Homo sapiens: one gene and its partner. The protein of the gene in region 2 binds, or shares a complex with, the protein of the main gene of each other region. Each region holds a gene or a part of one and is shown on either strand. Other genes may lie near its edges.

Region 1 (6,915 bases), on a different chromosome or scaffold from region 2:
CAAATTGTTGACCACCTCTGAGCCTTGAAAAAGTAGGAGGTTACTTTGTTAGAGCAAAATAATAAAATTTAATTTTAAAAAAGAAAACGTAGGAGGTTGGTTTGGATGAGCTAGTCTCTTCCGGTTGAAAAGTCTGACTCGGTGAGCATCCTGACGACTCCATTTCCTTCTGGCTCCCCACCCAGTCTTACACTTGGCTGCCATCAATACCACATGCTCTGAAGGGAGAGTGCTTGCATGGACTTTGCCAAATCCTGTCTGCTCCATCTCAGTTGAATGGAAAAGGAGGGAGGTGGGGCTGGTAGATAGGTGCTTTTGGTGCTAGTATCCACCAGGTTTTGTGTGCATCCCGTAATGAGCCCACTTCCTGAAAACATTTAAAGAAAAAAGATATCAGCTGGAGATGGCAGTGCGCACATGTAATCCCAGCTACTCGGGAGGTTGAGGTGGGAGGATCACTCAAACCTGGGAGTTTGAGGCCAGCCTGGGCAACACAGCAAGACCCTGTCTTTTTTTTAAAAAAAAAAAAAAAAAAAAGGCTGGGTGTGGTGGCTCACGCCTGTAATCCCAGCACTTTGAGAGGCCAAGATGGGTGGGTCACTAGAGGTCAGGAGTTCAAGACCAGCCTGGCCAACATGGCAAAACCCCAGCTCTACTAAAAATACAAAAATTAGCCAGGCGTGGTAGCAGTCGCCTGTAATCCCAGCTACTTGGGAGGCTGAGGCAGGAAATTTGCTTGAACTGGAGAGGAAGAGGTTGTGGTGAGCTGGGATCACGCCACTGCACTACAGCCTGGGTGATGGAATGAGACTCGTCTCAAAAAACAAACAAACAAAAAAAACACTTTGGGAGGTCAGAGCAGGAGGATCGCTTGAGACCAGGACTTCAAGACCAGCCTGGGCAACATAGAGACCCTGTCTCTACAGAAAAATTAAGGAAAGGGAAAAAAAAAAAGCCAAGTGTGGTGGATCATGCCTGTAATCCCAACACTTTGGAAGGCCAAGATGGGAGAATCACTTGAGAGGCCACCCTGGGCCACATAAGGAGACCTCCATCTCTACAAAAAATTTAAAACTTAGCTGGACATGGTGGCACAGGCCTGTAGTCCAAGCCACTCAGGAGGCAGAGGTGGGAGGATCCCTTGAGCCAAGAAGCTCAAGGTTGCAGTAAGCTGTGATCACACCACTGCACTCCAGCCTGGGTGACAGAGACCTTGTCCCCCCTTCCCAAAAAAAAAAAAGGTATCAATGAATGTTCTGCATAGGAAACTTTCATCTCACCTGCTCCTAGGCAAGAATAGCAATCATCTCTGGGCAGAATTCCTTCAATAAATATTTACTGAGTATCTACTGTGTGCCAGAGACTGGGCAGAGGTAAGACCTACCAAGGGCTGAGAATTCCACCCCAAGGAGGGCCCCTCCCTGAGGCCTTAAGAAGGGAGAAGACTGGCTGGGTGCGGTGGCTCATGCCTGTAATCCCAGCACTTTGGGAGGCTGAGACAGGTGGATCACGAGGTCAAGATATCGAGACCATCCTGGCCAACAAGGTGAAACCCCATCTCTGCTAAAAATACAAAAATTAGGCCGGGCGCAGTGGCTCACGCCTGTAATCCCAGCACTTTGGGAGGCCAAGGCGGGTGGATCACGAGGTCAGGAGATCGAGACCATCCTGGCTAACACGGTGAAACCTCGTCTCTATTAAAAATACAAACATTAGCCGGGCGTCGTGGCGGGTGCCTGTAGTCCCAGCTATTCAGGAGGCTGAGGCAGGAGAATGGCGTGAACCTGGGAGGCGGAGCTTCCAGTGAGCTGAGATCGCACCACTGCACTCCAACCCGGGTGACAGAGCGAGACACTGTCTCAGAAAAAAAATACAAAAATTAGCTGGGTGCAGTGGTGCGTGCCTGTAATCCCAGCTACTCGGGAGGCTGAGGCAGGAGAATCACTTGAATCTGAGGCGGAGGTTGTAGTGAGCCGAGATCGCACCACTGTACTCCAGCCTGGCGACAGAGCGAGACTCCATCTCAAAAAGAAAAAAAGGGAGAAGACCAATGAGGGAAGATGGGGTGGCCCATCTGATTCAGCAATCCCCATCTAGCTGATTGCCTGCGAACCTCTAGAGAAGGTCTGGGGCAGTTCCTGGGCAGGGAGGGATGGAGCTTACTTCCATCCTCCCTGTTTCTGGGCTCCTATTTGCTGCTCTGTCCAGCAAGAGGCAGAGAAACCCCTTGGGCACCTAGGGGTAAGATGCACTTCCCAGGCTGCAGAGGCTCCCAAGAGAAGCCAAAGGGCTTTGGTGAGGGTCCTGGGGCCTAGGTACCCAGACTAAGTTAGAAACTCCTGCCTCAGAGGGTGTACATAGGGCAGGGGCTGACCACAAGGACCTGAAACCTCAGAGGTGAGGCCTGCTTCCAATGGGGCTGCAGCTGGCTGGAGTGTGACGGCCACTCTGCCTTCATCCGGGCCCAGGGCTTAAGATAATGGTCCTTGCCTTTGTCAGCCTAAATAACAGAGAGGCTCTCTCAAAGAAAATGATATCTATTTGGGCATAGGGCATTGCAATGGTAGTATCCATGCCATAGTAAACTATATGGGTATTCAGGGAGGTAAAGGAAGACAGGCTTTAAGGGAAAAAATAGGATTACATAATTGTTTTGAAATATTTATCCTTAGGTAGAAGGATTAATAACAAGGGTGACCGCTCAAGGTTGGACAAGCGGTTGCTGGGCAGATGGCCATTCAAAAGTATGTTTTGTGCAAGGTTGTGACGCCCTTTGTGCAAGGTTGTGGTTTTTGCAGAGTCTTTGTGATAGTTTTCATTATCAGGTATTTATGCACGAGAACCCTCTTGTCATGGGTTTCTTGGGCTGTGTCCGGGTTTTTTTGTTCTGTTTTTTAACACAAGTGACTCCATTTAGATTAACAACTTTTGCACTCTCAGGACACTCACAGCCTAAGCCACCTCTACCCCTACGTTGTCAAATGCGATGGGAGTGTGGCTAGACCACCTCCTTCCCTGGTGCTTTGTTTCCTGTAACCACGAGCAATCTATCACACACCCGCTTCCTGATAATCTCCGAGAAGGAATCGGCCGAAGGGCTTCAGCATCCAGAAAGCCCCGAAAGCGCCACAATCAAGGCTCCTCCTCGGGCTCCCCCGTGCTGCCCCGGGCGCGCGCCATCCACCCGGCTGACAAAAAGCACCAGGACATGACCCAGTACCCTTTGATTTCTGTCCAGAGGTGGCGGACCCACCTCGGGGCTGGGATGGAGGGCGGGTCGGGGTCGCTAGGCTTTTTGCAAAAGGGGCAAAGGACTGATGGGGGGCGTAAGGAGCTGACGCCCGCGCTCCAAAGGGGCGTCCTGGTCAAGGAGGATGGGCCGCGCCCCCGCCAGCCGTGGGGACCCTGGAGGTGCTTCTGCCTCGACGTCCTCCAACATGGGTGCTGCCAGACTCTGCTGCGCTCCTGAGTTGCTCCTGGCGGAATTCCAGCCACCCGACATGGGTGTCTCATTTTCGGCTTCTGGGCCATGTCGGGACGGCGGAGGACCCCGGGGGACCGGCGGGAGAGTGGGAAAGGTGGGGCGGGAAAGCCGAGCGAGGCCCTCACTCGCCCATCTGTTGGCGGGGGCGGCAAGTGGGTTTCTTTCTTGCGTTCAGATTTTGCAGTAATTTGCATCTGGACATGGGATACGGGAGGCCAGGCTGCTCCTCGCAGTACACCCACCCACGCCTGCACCTGCCTCAGCGAAGCCGCTCGCCGCTGGTTCCAGCACAGGCTAAAGAGCTTCGGCATCCAGAAAACCAGAAGCGCGCCGCGCACGCGCGCCAAGGAGTTCGGCGACGGCCCCGCCCCTTCGGGGGTAGGGACAGCGCGGCTTCCGCCGGGAGCCCGGAACCGAGCCCAGGAGCCGGGGACGGTGCGCCAGTGCCCCCTCCGCGAGCCCCAACCAGTAGACGGTTCCCTGTCTCCCGCGCCCCAATTTCGATTTTCAAACGCAACTCCTACAGGATTCTGAGACCCCGTCCCATCTCCCATATCCCATTTCCAGCTGCAAATTACTGCAGAATCTGAACCCAGGAAAGAAACCCATTTGCCGACCCCCTCTTCCCTCTCCAGACAGGTGGAGAGCGGGTGAGGGTCTCGCTCGGCTTTCCCCCTGCACCTTTCCCACCCTCCCGCCCGTCCCTGGGGGTCCTCCGTCACCGCGGCCATGGCCCAGAAGCCGAAGGTGGACCCCCACGTCGGGCGGCTGGGATACCTGCAGGCGCTGGTCACGGAATTCCAGGAGACCCAAAGCCAAGGTGAGAGCCACGGTGGGATCAGGTGGCAGGGTCCGCTGTGACCGCCGCCCGGACCTGGCTTCAGTGCCGCTTTCCCGTTGCAGACGCCAAGGAGCAAGTCCTCGCCAACCTCGCCAACTTCGCTTATGACCCCAGCAACTACGAGTATCTGCGGCAGCTGCAGGTCCTGGATTTATTTCTCGATTCGCTGTCGGAGGAGAATGAGACCCTGGTGGAGTTTGCTATTGGTAAGGGCGGGGCCCGTTCCCTAGATGCCTAAATGGGCCAGGGTGAGATAAGTGAATTAGAAGTGAGTCCTTGGGGCCGGGCGTGGTGGCTCACACCTGTAATCCCAGCAGTTTGGGAAGCTAAGGCGGGCGGATCACCTGAGGTCATGAGTTCGAGACCAGCCTGGCCCACATGGCGAAACCCCGTCTCGTACAAAAATTAGCTAGACGTGGTGGAGAGTGCCTGTAATCCCAGCTACTAGTGAGCCTGAGGCAGGAGAAGCTTGAACCCAGGAGGCAAATGTTGCAGTGAGCTGAGATCGTGCCACTGCACCACAGCCTCGGGGACAAGAGTGAGACCCCGTCTCAAAAAAAAAAAAAAAAAAAAAAAAGCCGCACACAGTGGTGTGCACCTGTAGGCCCAGCTACTCTGGAGACTGAAGCAGGAGGTATTGCTTGAGTCTGGGAGGCAGAGGCCGAAGTGAGCTGAGATTGTGCTACTGCACTCCAGCCTGGGCGACAGAGTGAGACCATGTCTCAAAAAAATATGTTTTAAAAAGAGCAGTTTTGTAGCCGGGCGCGGTGGCACACACCTGTAATACCAGCACCAGCACTTTGGGAGGCTGAGGTGGGCGGATCACCTGAGGTCAGGAGTTCAAGATCAGCCTGGCCAACATGGTGAAACCCCATCTCTAACTAAAAATACAAAAATTAGCCGGGCATGGTGGTGGGCGCCTGTAATCCCAGCTACTTGGGAGGCTGAGGCAGGAGAATCGCTTGAACCCGGTAGGCAGAGGTTGTAGTGAGCCAAGATGGCACCACCGCACCCCAGCCTGGGCAACAGTGAGACTCTGTCTCAAAAAAAAAAGCAATTTCAGGCGGGTGAGGTGGCTCACACCTTTAATCTCAGCACTTTGTGAGGCCGAAGCAGGGAGATCACTTGAGTTCCGGAGTTCAAGACCAGCCTGGGCAACATGACAAAACCCCATCTCTGCTTTAAAAAAAAAAAAAAAAAAATTAGTCTGGCGTGGTGTCCCAGCTACTCAGGAGGCTGAGGTGGGAGGATTGCTTAAGCCTGGGAGGTCAAGGCTGCAGTGAGCTGGGATTGGGCCACTGTACTCCAGCCTGGGTGACAAAACGAGAATCTGTCTCAAAAACAAAAATAACTCATATTTAGTGTTTTCATATCAAGAGAAGCAGAGATGGCTTGCAGTCTGTAACTTATGGCTTCTGTAGTTGTTATGATCTTAAGACCTATTGAGTTATTCACTGGGTAGATATTTATTGCGCGTGTACCGTATATGCAAGCTACTGCTCTAAATGCTGGAGTATGGTGAACAGCTTAGGGAAAGGTCTTTGCCCCTCAGGAGCTTACATTCTAGTAGGGGGGACAGGTGGTTAGCAAACAAAAAAGATGATGCTCAGAAGGAAGTAAATGGGGTGATGAGAGACAGCAGTGGAAGGTGGGGGTTACTTCAGTTTTGGCCATCATGAGAAAGGCATTTTAGCCGGGACACAGCATGGGCAAAGGCCTTAAAACAGGAAGGAGCCAGACGGAAGGCTGATGTGGGAGGATCGTTGCAGTGAAGTGGAGAATGGCACAAAAAGAGTTTAGAGAGTTCAGTGGCACCAGAGCTTGCAGGAGTTTAGATCTAGGCCGTGGGAAATAGTTTGAAGCAAACAAAATTTTGAGAACAAACAAAAATTCCTTTTTCAAGCAATGCAGTGCCCACCTGTAGTCCCAGATACTCAAGAGGATCGCTTGAGCCCAGGAATTTGAGGCTGTCGTGTGCTGTGATTGCACGATTGCACCTGTGAATAGCCACTGCACTGCAGCCTGGCCAACACGCGCGTAGTCACCTGGCTGAAGTCTTGTCAGGCTTCTCCACTGTAAAATTACTCTTTCTTTCCCCTCTTTACGTATGATACCCATTGGAAGGAAGTCACTACATAAATTATCTTAAATCTCTCTTTTTATTCTCTTTTTCTTTTTTTTTTTTTTTTTTTTGAGATAGGGTCTCACTCTGTCACTTAGGCTGGAGTGCAGTGGTGTGATCATAGCTCACCATAAACTTGAACTCCTGGGCTCAAGCAGTCTTCCTGCCTTAGCCTCCCGAGTAGCTGTGACTACAGGTGTGCACCACCATGCCCAGCTAATTTTTTTTTTTTTTAATTTTTTGTTGTGACAGGATCTCACTGTGTTGCCCAGACTGGTCTCGAACTCCTGGCCCCAAGAAATAAATCCCTTGTAACCCTAAACAGACCCTCATTTCATAACACTGATTCTCGAAGGCCCCAACCAGGAATGCAAATGTTCCCCCTTCCGGTTTGTCTCATTGCCTCTTTGTGGTTTCTTTATCCCCTTTATTTCCTATAATCCAGAAATTGGGTTGAATGTCTTGATA
Region 2 (7,022 bases):
CTCCCCCAAGGAGGCCTCAGCATAATTCTTCAGGTGCATCTCCTAGGAGAGTCCGTCATGATTCACCAGATCCCTCTCCTCCTAGGCGAGCCCGTCATGGTTCCTCAGATATCTCTTCCCCCAGAAGGGTCCATAACAACTCCCCTGACACATCTAGGAGGACTCTTGGCTCTTCAGACACACAGCAACTCAGAAGGGCCCGTCATGACTCCCCTGATTTGGCTCCTAATGTCACTTATTCCCTGCCCAGAACCAAAAGTGGTAAAGCCCCAGAAAGAGCCTCTAGCAAGACTTCTCCACATTGGAAGGAGTCAGGAGCCTCCCATTTGTCATTCCCAAAGAACAGCAAATATGAGTATGACCCTGACATCTCTCCTCCACGAAAAAAGCAAGCAAAATCCCATTTTGGAGACAAGAAGCAGCTTGATTCCAAAGGTGAGCATATGACTGTCCATGAGAGGGATGTATGTATCCCTGGGAGCTTTCTTTTGGCCGTTTAGTTGATTTATTAGGTATAAGAATGGAATTTCTTTGGGAAAGTTTTGAAAAGTGAGAGGCTGGGTTTGGGAGAGTTGAACAATTATGGTGGCAGGGAGGAAGGTTTTCATATGTCTTTTTATGTGCTCGCTCCACCCCATATAAAAGTACAATTTATTTGTTGCAGAAGCTTTGGAATGTACAGAAGTATATAAAGATAAAATGTGACACAAAATTCTGTCATTCAGAGGCAATTATTGTTAGTGTTGTGGCCAGGGTCATCTTAGTCTTTTTTGGTTTGCATTTTTTATATAGTTGAGCTCTGGCTGTGTAGAACATTTGTATTGCATGTGCAATCTTGCCTGCTGTCCTTTCTTAACGTAGTCTTCCTCAGGCCATAAAACATCTTTATGTTAGTATAATTTTTAATAGTGTTTAATTACAAATTTAACCATTTTCCTAATAATGAATGTTTTTGGTTATTTCTAAGTTTTTTCTTCTGTAATTCTATAATGAACATCCTTGTACATAAACTGTTGTCCCCATTTTGGATTATTTCCTTATCTACTTCTAGATAGATTTCCTCGAAATTCAACTACTTCTATATAAGTTTCCTAGAAAGCTGAGAAGTTGATGTACTGGGTCAGAAGATGTGGGCGTTTTAAAGACTGTCGATACATATTGCAGAATGCCCTTTGGGAGGTGACTTGTGATGCTTATACAGTCGCTAGAACTTAGGCCTGTGCAGTGAAATTTTTTACTCCCTCTTTTGTTCCTAGGAACTATTTTAATTTTAAAATTAAAGTACTTTGTTATCCTTTAGTCCAAGGATATCAGACTATATTCCAGGTATTTCTGACTTTTGCCACACTATGGAGAGCTGACTACAAGTTATTTTGTCTTTCCATGGGTGGGGTTACTGACATAGAGGAGTGTGTGGAGATTTTACACACCAGTTACAGTCAGTGGTCACTTGGGAATAGAATGCCATATTCTACCTGTTGGTCTTAAAAGTTGTTTCTGACTTTGCTCTTCTCCTGTGCCATCCATACTTATGTTTAGGTTAATGATAATTCTTCATAGGAAAACTAAATAAATATTGTACATTAGCTTGGTAAGTTATCTTTTTAGATTCTTCCAAGGGGATTAAAGAACTCTTTGGCCAGGCATGGTGGCTCAAGCCTATAATCCCAGCACTTTGGAGGCCGAGGTGGGCAGATCACCTCAGGTCAGGAGTTCAAGACCAGCCTGGCCAACATAGCGAAACCCCATCTCTACTAAAAACACAAAAATTAGCTGGGCGTGGTGGCACACACCTGTAATTCCAGCTACTTGGGAGGCTGAGGCACAATAATTGCTTGAACCCAGGAGGCGGAGGTTGCAGTGAGCTGAGATCATGCCACTGCACTCCAGCCTGAGACTGTCTCAAAAAAAAAAAAATAATAATAATGTAAGGAATTCTTTAATTTCTAGGTTCTTCTCCCAGCCATAGGAGATTTCATGTAAGTTCTTCACCTAGAGGACATCAGAGTCACACAGATTCTTTGCTCCTATCCAGGTGACTGCCAGAAAGCAACTGATTCAGACCTTTCTTCTCCACGGCATAAACAAAGTCCAGGGCACCAGGATTCTGATTCAGATCTGTCACCTCCACGGAATAGACCTAGACACCGGAGCTCTGATTCTGACCTCTCTCCACCAAGGAGGAGACAGAGGACCAAATCTTCTGATTCTGACCTGTCCCCGCCTCGAAGGAGTCAGCCTCCTGGAAAGAAGGTCAGGATTTTCAGGAGCCATGTCCTTCTTTTCGTGTGACTCTTCTCTCTCAGCTTTATATATGTCCCAGAGAATCAAGCCAAGAAGAAGGATGTAGCTCTGAGAAGTGTAGTAAATCTTAGTTAAAAGGACCTTTGGAGGTCTTTCCTTCTGAAGGCAAACTGGCTATAACCCATCCCAGATGGACTTACAGATACCAGATTTCCCAAGTAGCTTCTGCGTTTATAGCCTCTTAATTCTACAATCTCATTTTAACAGGTCTAGAAAAACTTCCTATTTTCTTAGGAATAAACCGAGGACTGTAATTTGCAGAGTGAAGTTTGGAGCACAAGCATTGTGTCAAACGGATCACATACAGAAATTCTCCTTCTGCCACTTACTGTCTGTGAGATTTGGGCAAGATGCTTAATATCTCTAAACCTCAGTTTCTTTATCTGTAAATTGTGGATAATAGTAGTACCTACTGTGTAAGGTTGTTATGATAATTAAGCCAGTGTAAGTAAAACTCTTAGCACAGTGTCTGGGACAAAGTAAGCATCTAGTGTTAGTGATTTACTAGTATAAATTGGACTATAGGTCTCTGTATCCAGAGCTTAAGGAGAGGCACTTAAAATATGAAACCACTTTTAGAAATCATGTTGTCTGAGAAGTCAATGGTTTGTTTTAAATTCATGATAAGGCTTGATGAATTAGCCAAAAAACCCCAAAATCCATATGAACCTTGAGTAATTATATTGTAAAGAACATTGGTAGTAGTAAAGGAATCTTATTTGTAAGTGGTTAAGAAACAGAATGATAGAGCCTGTGATGTGCATTTTTCTCCCCAGTGCAGACTTATCAGGTAAATCTTGTCTGTAGAAGACTCTGAGAAGACTGGTCCTGGCAGGGTAGACCAGCCTGTTCTTTACCCAGGAAGTGAGATTCTTCTTTTTTAGGGAAAAAAGAGGTCTCTGTTTCAGCTGGACCTCTTGGCATTTTATATATCCATTTAGTTCATGGACAACTTAATATTATTCCAATTTCGTTGCTGAAGGATATCAAGATATACTGTGTGCTTCATTCGTGGGCTGATTTGCTATCTTGATGCTAAGTGGAAATTAGCAAAAAGTTTTCATTTGTTAGATCTTCTGTTATTACCATGAAATATATCCACAATTTAAGGATCTTAGGTTTGCTTGAGTTTGTACTGTAAATGGAATATTTTATCAGTATGGGTCTCTAATGGAAGGCTTAGTGCTTTATACTGGTTTCTGATCAGATGACCTGAGATAGTCTTCATGTGTGCAGTTTATATACTGAAAAGTCAGAAATACAAATGCGTAGCCCTCCATTTAATATATTGTTAGTGTTTCTGCTTATTCTTAAACTTGATGGTTTTGATGATGGTTTTCTTTTATAGTTTTTGAATCCTATGGTAATTATTGAGAATATAAAGCTAGAGTTTTAGGTTTAATTATTGCTGGTCATTAGACACAAATGCAACTAACTGTGTACCCATGGAGCCTACTGTCACATCATCTCATTAATGTTGGATGCTCCCTTTTCCGTTGCATAGGCTGCACACATGTATTCTGGGGCTAAAACTGGGTTGGTGTTAACTGACATACAGCGAGAACAGCAGGAGCTCAAGGAACAGGATCAAGAAACCATGGCATTTGAAGGTAAAAATATGAAAGTGCAGAGACCAATTTAGGCTCATACTGTTTTTTTTTTTTTAATTTAGCTTATTGTACCTGATATTTTGAACTTTTAATTGCTATCAAATTTCAGCTCTGGTTTTATGCATTGTTGTAATTTCTCAGTGAATCCCAGTGCTTCTTTCCTTCTTGAAAAATGCCATTTCGCCCAGGCGCGGTGGCTCATGCTTGTAATCCCAGCACTTTGGTAGGCCGAGGCGGGTGGATCAGCTGAGGTCTGTAGTTCAAGACCAGCCTGGCTAACATGATGAAACCCTGTCTCTACCAAAAATACAAAAAAAAACTAGCCAGGCATGGTGTTGCATGCCTGTAATCCCAGCTACTCAGGAGGCTGAGACAGGAGAATCGCTTGAACCTGGGAGGTGGAGGTTGCAGTGAGCCAAGATCGCGCCACTGCACTCCAACCTGGGCAACAGAGTGAGACTCCATCTCAAAAAAAAAAAAAAAAAAAAAAGGAAAATGCCATTTCTTGGGCCCAGTGCCAATATGCACCAAGATGTTGGTAGGAACTACTTTGGTCTGGCTGCAGAAGTTCTTATCTAGCATTAGAATCCCAAGCGGTTGATTTGATCTCTTAGAATGTTATTTCTGATTTTGATCCTGATATTTGAGTATAATTTTCCTTTGCAGCTGAATTTCAATATGCTGAAACCGTATTTCGAGATAAGTCTGGTCGTAAGAGGAATTTGAAACTCGAACGTTTAGAGCAAAGGAGGAAAGCAGAAAAGGACTCAGAGAGAGATGAGCTGTATGCCCAGTGGGGAAAAGGGTAAGGGAACCACTGAAAGGGTAAACAAGATGGCAGTGACTGGAACAAGTCATTTCTCTGCTCTTCTGATCACTCACTTTCTTATTATGCCTTCAGAGCTGTTATCAGTAATGGGAAATTTGGTGTGCTGAATCTTCTTCCTAGGATATTGATATATTCCACGCTTCTAGTGGGTATTCTGGGAATTTTACCCTGCTCAGTATTTGCCCTAGGGTACTAGAAAGAGGAGATTGTCCAAACTTAGCAGTATGGTCCATCTCGTGTAGAAGTGGAAATGTCATACAGGATAGCAAACACTCTTGGTTCCTTTTTGCCCAGGCTTGCCCAGAGCCGGCAACAGCAACAAAATGTGGAGGATGCAATGAAAGAGATGCAAAAGCCTCTGGCCCGCTATATTGATGACGAAGATCTGGATAGGATGCTAAGAGAACAGGAAAGAGAGGGGGACCCTATGGCCAACTTCATCAAGAAGAATAAGGCCAAGGAGAACAAGAATAAAAAAGGTGGGACTTCTGGGAATCATCAGCTGGAGGTGACTTGTGAAGAGAGAATCATTAGGATGCTGATACATAGCTATATGCAAAGAAGGATTTCCCAAATAATTTAAATTCATTGTATTTGTGAGTTTAGATTCAACTCAATTGGTCTTTCTATATAAAAATTTTTCCAGGCCAGGCGCAGTGGCTCATGTTTGTAATCCTAGCACTTCGGGAGGCCGAGGTGGGTGGATCACCTTAGAGTTCGAGACCAGCCTGGCCAACATGGTGAAACCCCATCTCTACTAAAAATACAAAAAAAAAAAAAAAATAGCCGGTCATGGTGGTGCACGCCTGTAATCCCGGCTAGTTGGGAGGCTAAGGCACGAGAATTGCTTGAACCCAGGAGGCAGAGGTTGCAGTGAGCTGAGATCGTGCCACTGTACTCCAGCCTGGGCAACAGAGTGAGACTCTACTAAAAAAAAAGGAAAATTCCACATTGCCATCCAGCTCTGAATTAAACTATGTCATTAACTGAATACTTTTTTCTTACTCCTCTCATTAGTGAGACCTCGCTACAGTGGTCCAGCACCTCCTCCCAACAGATTTAATATCTGGCCTGGATATCGCTGGGACGGAGTGGACAGGTAAGCCTGGGTATTTCTTACATTTTCTACCTGACTGTAACCTTCCCTAACCACTCGTAAGTTGCTCCACACTTTATTTCATTCTCTGCTTTAATCACAAGGTGAAAAATATGCACTTTGCTTGCTTCTTTTTCTGAGGTCCACAAATCCTATTTCTCATGCTTGGAACACTCCTCCTTCTGTTTCCTTTTCATAATACTTTTTAAAGCTCTGGACAAACACCTCAGGTGGTTCAGATAAGACACCCTTTGTTTTGGACATTGGTTACTTTTAATGATATTTTGTAAGGTTTAGAGGGGTTGAGTGATGAGTTGTAGTCTGGAGCCTTCTACCTGATATATCTTTAAAATGTAGCCTCTGAATCTTTATTCACTTTATGGTTTTAGGAGGCAGTCACTTTTAATGTCTTCCAGTCCTCTACCCCACCTCATCTGTCTACCTACCAACATCTGTACCCACGTACTCTAACTTCCTGTTATGATGGATGAATATTTGCTTCCATCCAAAGTCAGTTTGTATACTCACATATTAGATCCCATCTCCTCTTGCCTACTAAAGGACATTGTTTTAGTATCTAGCACAATAATTCTTAAACTTTTTAATCTCAGGACCCTTTTACAGTCTTTTTTTTTTTGAGATGGAGCCTCGCCCTGTCGCCCAGGCTGGAGTGCAGTGGCGCAGTCTCGGCTCACTGCAACCTCTGCCTCCTGGGTTCAAGCGATTCTCCTGCCCTAGCCTCCCGAGTAGCTGGGATTACCGGCGCCCGCTGCCACACCCAGCTAATTTTTTGTATCTTTAATAGAGACGGAGTTTCACCATGTTGCCAGGCTGGTCTCAAACTCCTGACCTCAGGTGACCCGCCCACTTCAGCCTCCCAAAGTGCTGGTATTACAGGCTTACAGGATTACAGGATTACAGGTGAGCCACCATGCCCAACCACTCTTATTTTTTTTTGAGGCAGAGTCTTGCTCTGTTGCTCAGGCTGGAGTGCAGTGGTGCAATCTCCACTTCCCGGGTTCAAGCAATTCTCATGCTTCAGTGGCCTGAGTAGCTGGGATTACAGGCATGTGTCACCATATCCAGCTAATTTTTGCATTTTTAGTAGAGACGAGGTTTTGCCACATTGACCAGGCTGGTCTTGAATTCTTGGGCTCATATGATTGTCTGCCTCGATTTCCCA

The links. Proteins that work in one complex are often made in the same cells at the same time.
Region 1: BUD13 (region 2) and ARMC7 share a complex: the UniProt entries of both Homo sapiens proteins name them as parts of the minor spliceosome.

Annotation. Positions count from the first base shown.
Region 1 is NC_000017.11:75,106,076-75,112,990, forward strand, and holds the start of ARMC7 (armadillo repeat-containing protein 7), read left to right. Parts: upstream 1-4,074; 5' UTR 4,075-4,213; coding exon 4,214-4,304; intron 4,305-4,387; coding exon 4,388-4,531; intron 4,532-6,915. Other genes in the region: SLC16A5 (monocarboxylate transporter 6), read left to right, coding at 3,660-4,074. UniProt on the Homo sapiens protein: As a component of the minor spliceosome, involved in the splicing of U12-type introns in pre-mRNAs.
Region 2 is NC_000011.10:116,755,966-116,762,987, reverse strand, and holds part of BUD13 (BUD13 homolog), read left to right. Parts: coding exon 1-435; intron 436-2,035; coding exon 2,036-2,253; intron 2,254-3,808; coding exon 3,809-3,914; intron 3,915-4,580; coding exon 4,581-4,719; intron 4,720-5,037; coding exon 5,038-5,222; intron 5,223-5,760; coding exon 5,761-5,842; intron 5,843-7,022. UniProt on the Homo sapiens protein: Involved in pre-mRNA splicing as component of the activated spliceosome. As a component of the minor spliceosome, involved in the splicing of U12-type introns in pre-mRNAs.